Homo sapiens: one gene and its partner. The protein of the gene in region 2 purifies or fractionates together with the protein of the main gene of each other region. This does not show direct contact. Each region holds a gene or a part of one and is shown on either strand. Other genes may lie near its edges.

What was found. The genes of interacting proteins can lie anywhere in the genome.
Region 1: the proteins of ST14 (region 2) and HS6ST2 purify together in Homo sapiens (affinity purification with mass spectrometry; one large-scale study listed by BioGRID and IntAct). This does not show direct contact.

What each region holds. Positions count from the first base shown.
Region 1 is NC_000023.11:132,703,630-132,707,129, reverse strand, and holds part of HS6ST2 (heparan-sulfate 6-O-sulfotransferase 2), read left to right. Parts: intron 1-3,500. UniProt on the Homo sapiens protein: 6-O-sulfation enzyme which catalyzes the transfer of sulfate from 3'-phosphoadenosine 5'-phosphosulfate (PAPS) to position 6 of the N-sulfoglucosamine residue (GlcNS) of heparan sulfate.
Region 2 is NC_000011.10:130,166,282-130,169,781, forward strand, and holds part of ST14 (suppressor of tumorigenicity 14 protein), read left to right. Parts: intron 1-3,500. UniProt on the Homo sapiens protein: Exhibits trypsin-like activity as defined by cleavage of synthetic substrates with Arg or Lys as the P1 site. Involved in the terminal differentiation of keratinocytes through prostasin (PRSS8) activation and filaggrin (FLG) processing.

The DNA of each region.
Region 1 (3,500 bases), on a different chromosome or scaffold from region 2:
CTTTTATGGGGAAGTCTTGAGAATTTTGTTTTCTTTTTGCTTTAAAATTGCTAGATGATAGGACCATCTCTTTAAAACAGTTTTGCTGTATAACAAAGCAAATCCTGACACACTCTTTATTTTTACTATGGTGTTGATTAGTTGGACCAGATTATTGCCAGAGCAACTAATACCTGGTCTTAATGAGAGAAAACAAGAGGAGTACAGATGGTGAGATGGGAAAGAAACGGTTTTGGTAAATATCAATGGGGCCCTTTTTGAATTTTGGTGAGCTGAATGATGTATGAAAACTATTTGCAAGGCTAGCATATTTTTCAACCACTAGTAAAGCAATAAAACAAATAACATTTTTGGTAATCCCCATTGTATATGCAGTTTCATAAATATACAAGATTATGATTATCGCTGCCTCATAATTAACAATTTGCATAAGTACTTGCTATTTTTTAGTTGTCTGAATAGATTTTTGTAATCCAGAGAAAGAAGGGAACAATCAGTGGAAGCCATCCCAAATGCCTAGTATTATTGCTACACACTTGCACAATTAACAGCGATACTAATTGCTTCAGACCAGAACCTCATTTGTTTTTCTAAGGACAGCAAAAACATTAATAGCCAGAGTGCCTGTCAATCTCTCTCTCTTTTTCCTATAGCCAACTGTATCATAGGGTCTGCAGTTGACTGTAAGCAAATTATTTTGTTGGATTTTCAGTGTATCATCTTGTAATGGAGTTTCCAAGTTTCAGTTAGCAATCAATGCCTTGAACAGCCAGACTTATTTTTATAATATTTTAACAATAGACCTCTATAAAGTTAATGAATAAAAGGATGCTGACATGCCAATCAGTTCTGCTGCTGCATTTACATTCTACTACATATTTCATATCTTTAAAATTATTGGCATTAGACCTGCATATAAGAATCATAGAAAGTCCAGGCTGGAGGGGAGCTTTAAGATCATCCCGTCACACTCCCTCCTTTTTCAGATGAGTATGATTGTCAGTAATTTGAATCTTGATAACAACCACCAAATCAATGATGCCACACTTTTTTTTTTTTGTACCTTTCAAACGTTGGGAACTATTATAGTAAGTTTGAATGATAACTGGTTGTTTGGGAATCATATAGTTTCAACTTATTTTCAAAACAACTGAATCAGAATTTTAAAAATATGCCCTCATAAGGCTTACCTAAACATAGCCATAATGTTGATGGTATATGTGTGAAAGGAGATGTTCTATGCAAATCACCTGGCAATGAGACACTCAACCAATATCAGCTCTCTTTCCTTCATGCATAGATTACCTAATTAACATTACTATAGTGGAAACATTACATCAGTGACTGACAGTCTAGGCGTTTAGAGTCAAACTGACCTCGGGTCCAATCCTGGCGCTGCTACTTTCCAGCTGTGTGACGTTGGGTAATTTAGTTCATCTCTGTTGGCTTCAGGTAGTTTTCTTATATGTGAAATGTAGCCAGTATATAGGCTTGTTTTGAGGATTAAAATGAGATCGTGCATATCAAGTGCTTAGCACTGTTCCTGTCACATAGTAAACAGTCGATAATGGTGGTTATTACCATCGTTTTTTGGCATACCCAGCGGCAGCCTCACTCAATAGTATATTTAATCTTACAGTGATTTGGGGTACTTACACATACACCTGTACACATGCATATTTGGGCACACAAGTTCATAAGATTTGCATCAGAAAGACTGCTTTCCCAAAGGTTACCTGTGACCACCATGTTTCACAATTCAATGGCCTCTTCCCTGGCCTCAGTCTTCTTGACCTCTTTGGAGATTCTGGCACTTTTGCACATATTCTCTTGCTTGAAAGGGTTCATAATCTATCTTGATGTCTTCTCTACATTCCTTAGGTTTCCTTTGTTGGGATCTCTTTTCCACACGTACACACACACACACACACACACACACACGCGTGCCCACATCTTCTCCCTCCCCCACTGCCCCTTTAAATAGAGCAATTCCCAAGGTCCTGTCATTGATCTGCTTCTCTTCTGTTGCTATATTTTCTCCCTGGGTAACTTCACCTCCTCACATAGCTTCACCTTTAACCTCTACACTAATGATTCCCAAATTGACCTCTCCAACCCTTAATTCATTCCGGAGCCCCAGGCTAACTCCAATTTCCAATTGCCTGCTGAGAATCTCCAGGGCAGGATGTCCTAGGAGACTGAAAGCGTAGTCTGGCTTTTGTCATCCTTCTCAGGAATGCAGATGGAGGAATCTAGCTTCAGAAGTATTAAGGGTTGAAAACAAGGCACAAGTATGGAGCATTAGTCTGAGCAGAAGTAACAGTGGTCTAAGTTAGCAAAGTGCTTCAAACTGAGCTTTCCAGGGGAGGCATAACAGATAAACTGTGAATTTCTGTTATTATGCACTGGAGATGTCAATTGGCAGTTGGAACTTTAAAAGGTTTATATTTTCTAGGGATAAGGGAACAGCTTCCTAAGATGAAAATTGAGTTCAGTTTTTAGGTGCTGGAAGATTGGCATGTTTGGAAGAAGTGTTAATTAAAATCATCTTTCTTTTCTTTTCTTTTTTTTTGAGACGAGTTTTTTTCGCTCTTGTTACCCAGACTGGAGTTCAATGGCGCGATCTCAGTTCACTGCAACCTCCGCCTCCTGGGTTCAAGCAATTCTCCTGCCTCAGCCTCCCAAGTAGCTGGGATTTCAGGCATGTGCCACCACACCTGGCTAATTTTGTATTTTTAGTAGAGACAGAGTTTCACTATGTTGGTCAGGCTGGTCTTGGACTCCTGACCTCAGGTGATCCACCCACCTTGGCCTCCCAAAGTACTGGGATTACCGGCGTGAGCCACCATGCCTGGCCAAAATCGTCTTTCTTTGGACACTTATTATCATTAATCTTGTTTCAGTGTTTTGTTTAAGAAACGCACGTGCCAAGGGGAAAGATGATGTACTGAACTTGAATGATGAGCAGGTGGGAATTTTGTGAGAGCAAATGTGTGTGTAGACACATACACATATGCTGGGTCAGGTGTGCCTGAGATTTTGAATGTGTGCAAATAATTCTATCAGTGATAGATTTTTTTCTTTCATTCATTCTGCAGATATTTACAGAACATGCCAAGCTCTCTGTGGAGCAACACAGCTGTGAATATAGAACATATAGGGTCTCTGTCCTTAAGTGTCTAATACATTTTTTTTTGTTATATGCAGGTACATTGACAATTTAATTTAGTTTAGAAATATCTGCAACATGTCACAAATTGTTCAATGGCCATAATCTTGCTGACAATCTTAATGACCAAAGAGGAACTTAAGGGAAATAAGACAGTGTTAAAGTGGGAAAGGAATGTACATAAATCTGAATTAGAAATTGATTACTTCCTTTAAATTTAGTAAATATTGAATTGCTTTGGGGTTTTACATTTCAAGTTGGCTTGCCAGTGTTCCAGGCCAGGGTAAGAATGATTATGTCTAACCCTAAAACTTAATTAGAGTAAAGGAAT
Region 2 (3,500 bases):
GTCTAGTTGGTTGTTGTGCACACACCACTTGTATCCTGGACAAGGTGTTTTATTGGCCTCCTGTCTGCTGGGTGTGGAGCCCTGGGTGTTGGAGGATCGAAGTTCTGGTAGGCTTGTGTCTGATTGAAAGGCTGTGCCTAAGGGGGGGTCTGTTCTTGAATCCACGTCACTTTGGGTGGTGACCTCAGGCTGCTCGTCACCCCTTCCTGGGTTCTGTGCCATTTCTTATTTAGTAACAGCTCAGATGAGGACTTGGGGCATTTGCCTACCAGCTCCACAGATGACACCAGCTGGGAGGGAAAGGCTGATACCTTGTATGACTTGATTATGAGTCAGAGCATCTGGACAGACTGTCTGATAGGCTGCGCTGAGCAGAATGCATCCGTCTGGGTCAGGAGTCAGTGCTTTGCTCACTGAACCACCTCCCTCAACCATGGAGCAGAAACCACGAGACCCAGAGTTCTGAGTTGACAGTGAGCCCAGGAGAGATCAGGCATGGAAGTGTGACTGCCCAAAGTCGAAGTGTGCTTTCTTCCCCCTATGTTTTTATTTGGTTATACCTTTTAAAGTTATTATTAAAAGTCTAATATATACATATTTAAAGAAAACTTAGCCAACTCAGATAAGTAGTAAGAATTTAAAAATGAGGCCGGGTGCGGTGGTTCATGCCTGTAATCCCAGCACTTTGAGAGGCCAGGGCCGATGGATCACTTGAGGTCAGGAGTTCAAGACTAGCCTGGCCAACATGGTGAAACCCCATCTCCACTAAAAATCCAAAAATTAGCCAGGCATGGCGGTGGGCACCTGTAATCCTAGCTACTCAGGAGACTGAGAGAGGAGAATCACTTGAACCTGGGAGGTGGAGGTTGCAGTGAGCCGAGATCGTGCCATTGCACTCCAGCCTGGGTGACAGAGCGAGACTCTGTCTCAAAAAAAATTTTTTTTAATAAAAATGACACAAATACCCCTACAAAGACATTTTAACAATTTGGTATTGCCTATGCATGTTTTCTAAAAAAATTTTTTTCCTCATTACCACATTTAGGAAGCTTTTCTTTTTGAAGTCACACAATATAGAAATGTACAGTGTAAAATGTGAAACTTCTGAAATTCCCTCTCCCAGATTTTAGAGCCTCTATAAATAGTTTTGTTTATATTCTCCCACAAGTCTTGTGTGTGTGTTCTGCTGTTTGTGTGCACACCTATTCTCCTCCAAATGGAATCATCACTAATTCCACTCTGCAGTAAAGATATGATTTTATTAATGAACTTATCAAACATTTATTAGATATCATACCTCATGCTAGATTTGTGGAGCAAGACAGACCCCCTTCCCTCCCCTATCACAGGAGTCTGGGAGGGAGGTGTTGGAGAGGGATCTCCCAGAATTACTCCAAGGAGATGCCTGAGCTGAATTTCGAAGGGCAGGAGTGACTATTTTTTTTTTTTCTGAGATAGGGTCTTGCTCTGTCGCCTAGGCTGGAGTGCAGTGGCGCGATCTCGGCTCACTGCAACCTCTGCCTCCCGGGTTTGAGCAATTCTCCTGCCTCAGCCTTCCAAGCAGCTGGAATTACAGGTGTGCGCCACTGCGCCAGGCTAATTTTTGTATTTTTAGTAGAGATGGCGGTTTCACCATATGGGCCAGGCTGGTCTTGAATCCTGGCCTCGAGTGGTCTACCTGCCTTGAACTCCCAAAGTGCTGGGATTGCAGGCATGAGCCACCGTGCCCAGCCTATTTTTTTCATTTAACATTCTATCTTAGATAGCTTTTCCATGTCATTATCTACTTTTTGAAAAACGATTTTTGATTGCCTTATAAGCTTTCATCGAGGGAACATATCATTCTTTCCATCTTCTTATTTTAATCGTTTTATTGTTTGGGTGTGTTACTTGAATGCATCATTGGACAATTAATAGAAAAAGAGCAAACAGAATGAGGAAGGTAATTGGCAAGCAGACCCTGTGGAGGCCACGCTAGTCAGACCTCTTGTGGGTTATGCTGGTGAATTCTGGAAACGGTGTCTTCAAGGGAAGATGACTAAGGGTGAGATGGAACCAGATGGCCAGGGTTTAGAAAACATTTTGTTTGAATGATCAGAGGAGTTGAGCATGTTTAGCCAGAGGAGGTGCAGACTGAGAGAGCACACGAGCACCGATGTAGAGCTTCCACTGGAGCGTCTCCTGAGTGGGGAAACTAGGCTGGTTCTGTTGCAGTGCTAATTAGTGCAGAGGTGATTGCAGTGCTGATCACACTTGGTGGAAGGAAGAGCTTCCTAATACTCGTACTAAGGAAAATGCTATTTCTTCCAAAAGGATGGTCTCGCGAGGATGAGAGGTGGGTGACATGCCCTGCAGAATCTGTCTCGGCTCTGAGAATCCAATTTCAAGGGTAGATCCAGCAGTTCTCCCCTCGCTTGTATCCTATTCCCCCAGGATAGAGTCTGGTTCTAATAGAGGACACAGACTTCCTGGTGCCCTCCCCTGGGGGTGGGGCCCCTCTGTTTGCATAGTTGGTCCTTTCCCCAAAACAGGTGCTCAGATTTGTAGCCATGGAAGCGTGTTTTAGAACTTACCCAGTTCTAGAGGCTGCAGGCAGGCTTGGGTTTTTCCCACTAGCTTCTGCAGATCCCTGGGTCCACCAAGTCAGAAACAGACTGTGGCACCTCCATGCCATGAAATATGACTCAGCACTGAAAAGGAACAAGCTGATGGATGCAACAACTTGAAAGACCTCCAGGGAATTTTGTGCAGTTAAAAAAAAAGCCAACAGTCCCATACATACCATATTATTTATTTATATAATATAATGGGTTTTTTTTTTTTTTTTTTTTTTGAGACAGAGTCCTGCTCTGTCCCAGGCTGGAGTACAGCGGTGTGATCTGGGCTCACTGCAACCTCCGCCTCCCTGGTTCAAGCGATTCTCCTGCCTCAGCCTCCCGAGTAGCTGGGACTACAGGTGTGTGCCACCACACCCAGCTAATTTTTGTATTTTTAGTAGAGACAGGGTTTCGCCATGTTGGCCAGACTGGTCTTGAAATCCTGACCTCAGGTGATCCACCCGCCTTGGCCTTCCAAAGTGCTGGGATTACAGGCATGAGCCACCACGCCTGGCCTATATAACATAATTTTTGAAATGACACCATGTTAGTAGTAGAGGACAGATTAGCGATTGTGGAGCTGAAGGGGTGGGGGACAGGAGGGAGGTGGCTGTGGTTACAGAAGGCCATGGGCATCCTCGTGTTGGAGCTGTTCAGAATGTTGACTGTGATGCCAGAGACAGGGGACTACGCTAGCGATGACATAGATGGAACTTAATACTTAACGTGAGTAGCGGTGAAACGGGAAGTCTGAATAAGATCCGCGGATGATACTGCTGTTGTGGTATTATGATACAGTTTTATGAGGTGTGACTATTGGGAGAAACTGGGCAAGGATCTCAGTATGATTTCCTACAACTGTATGGGAATCTACAAGTATCTCCATAAAAATGTCAGTAATGA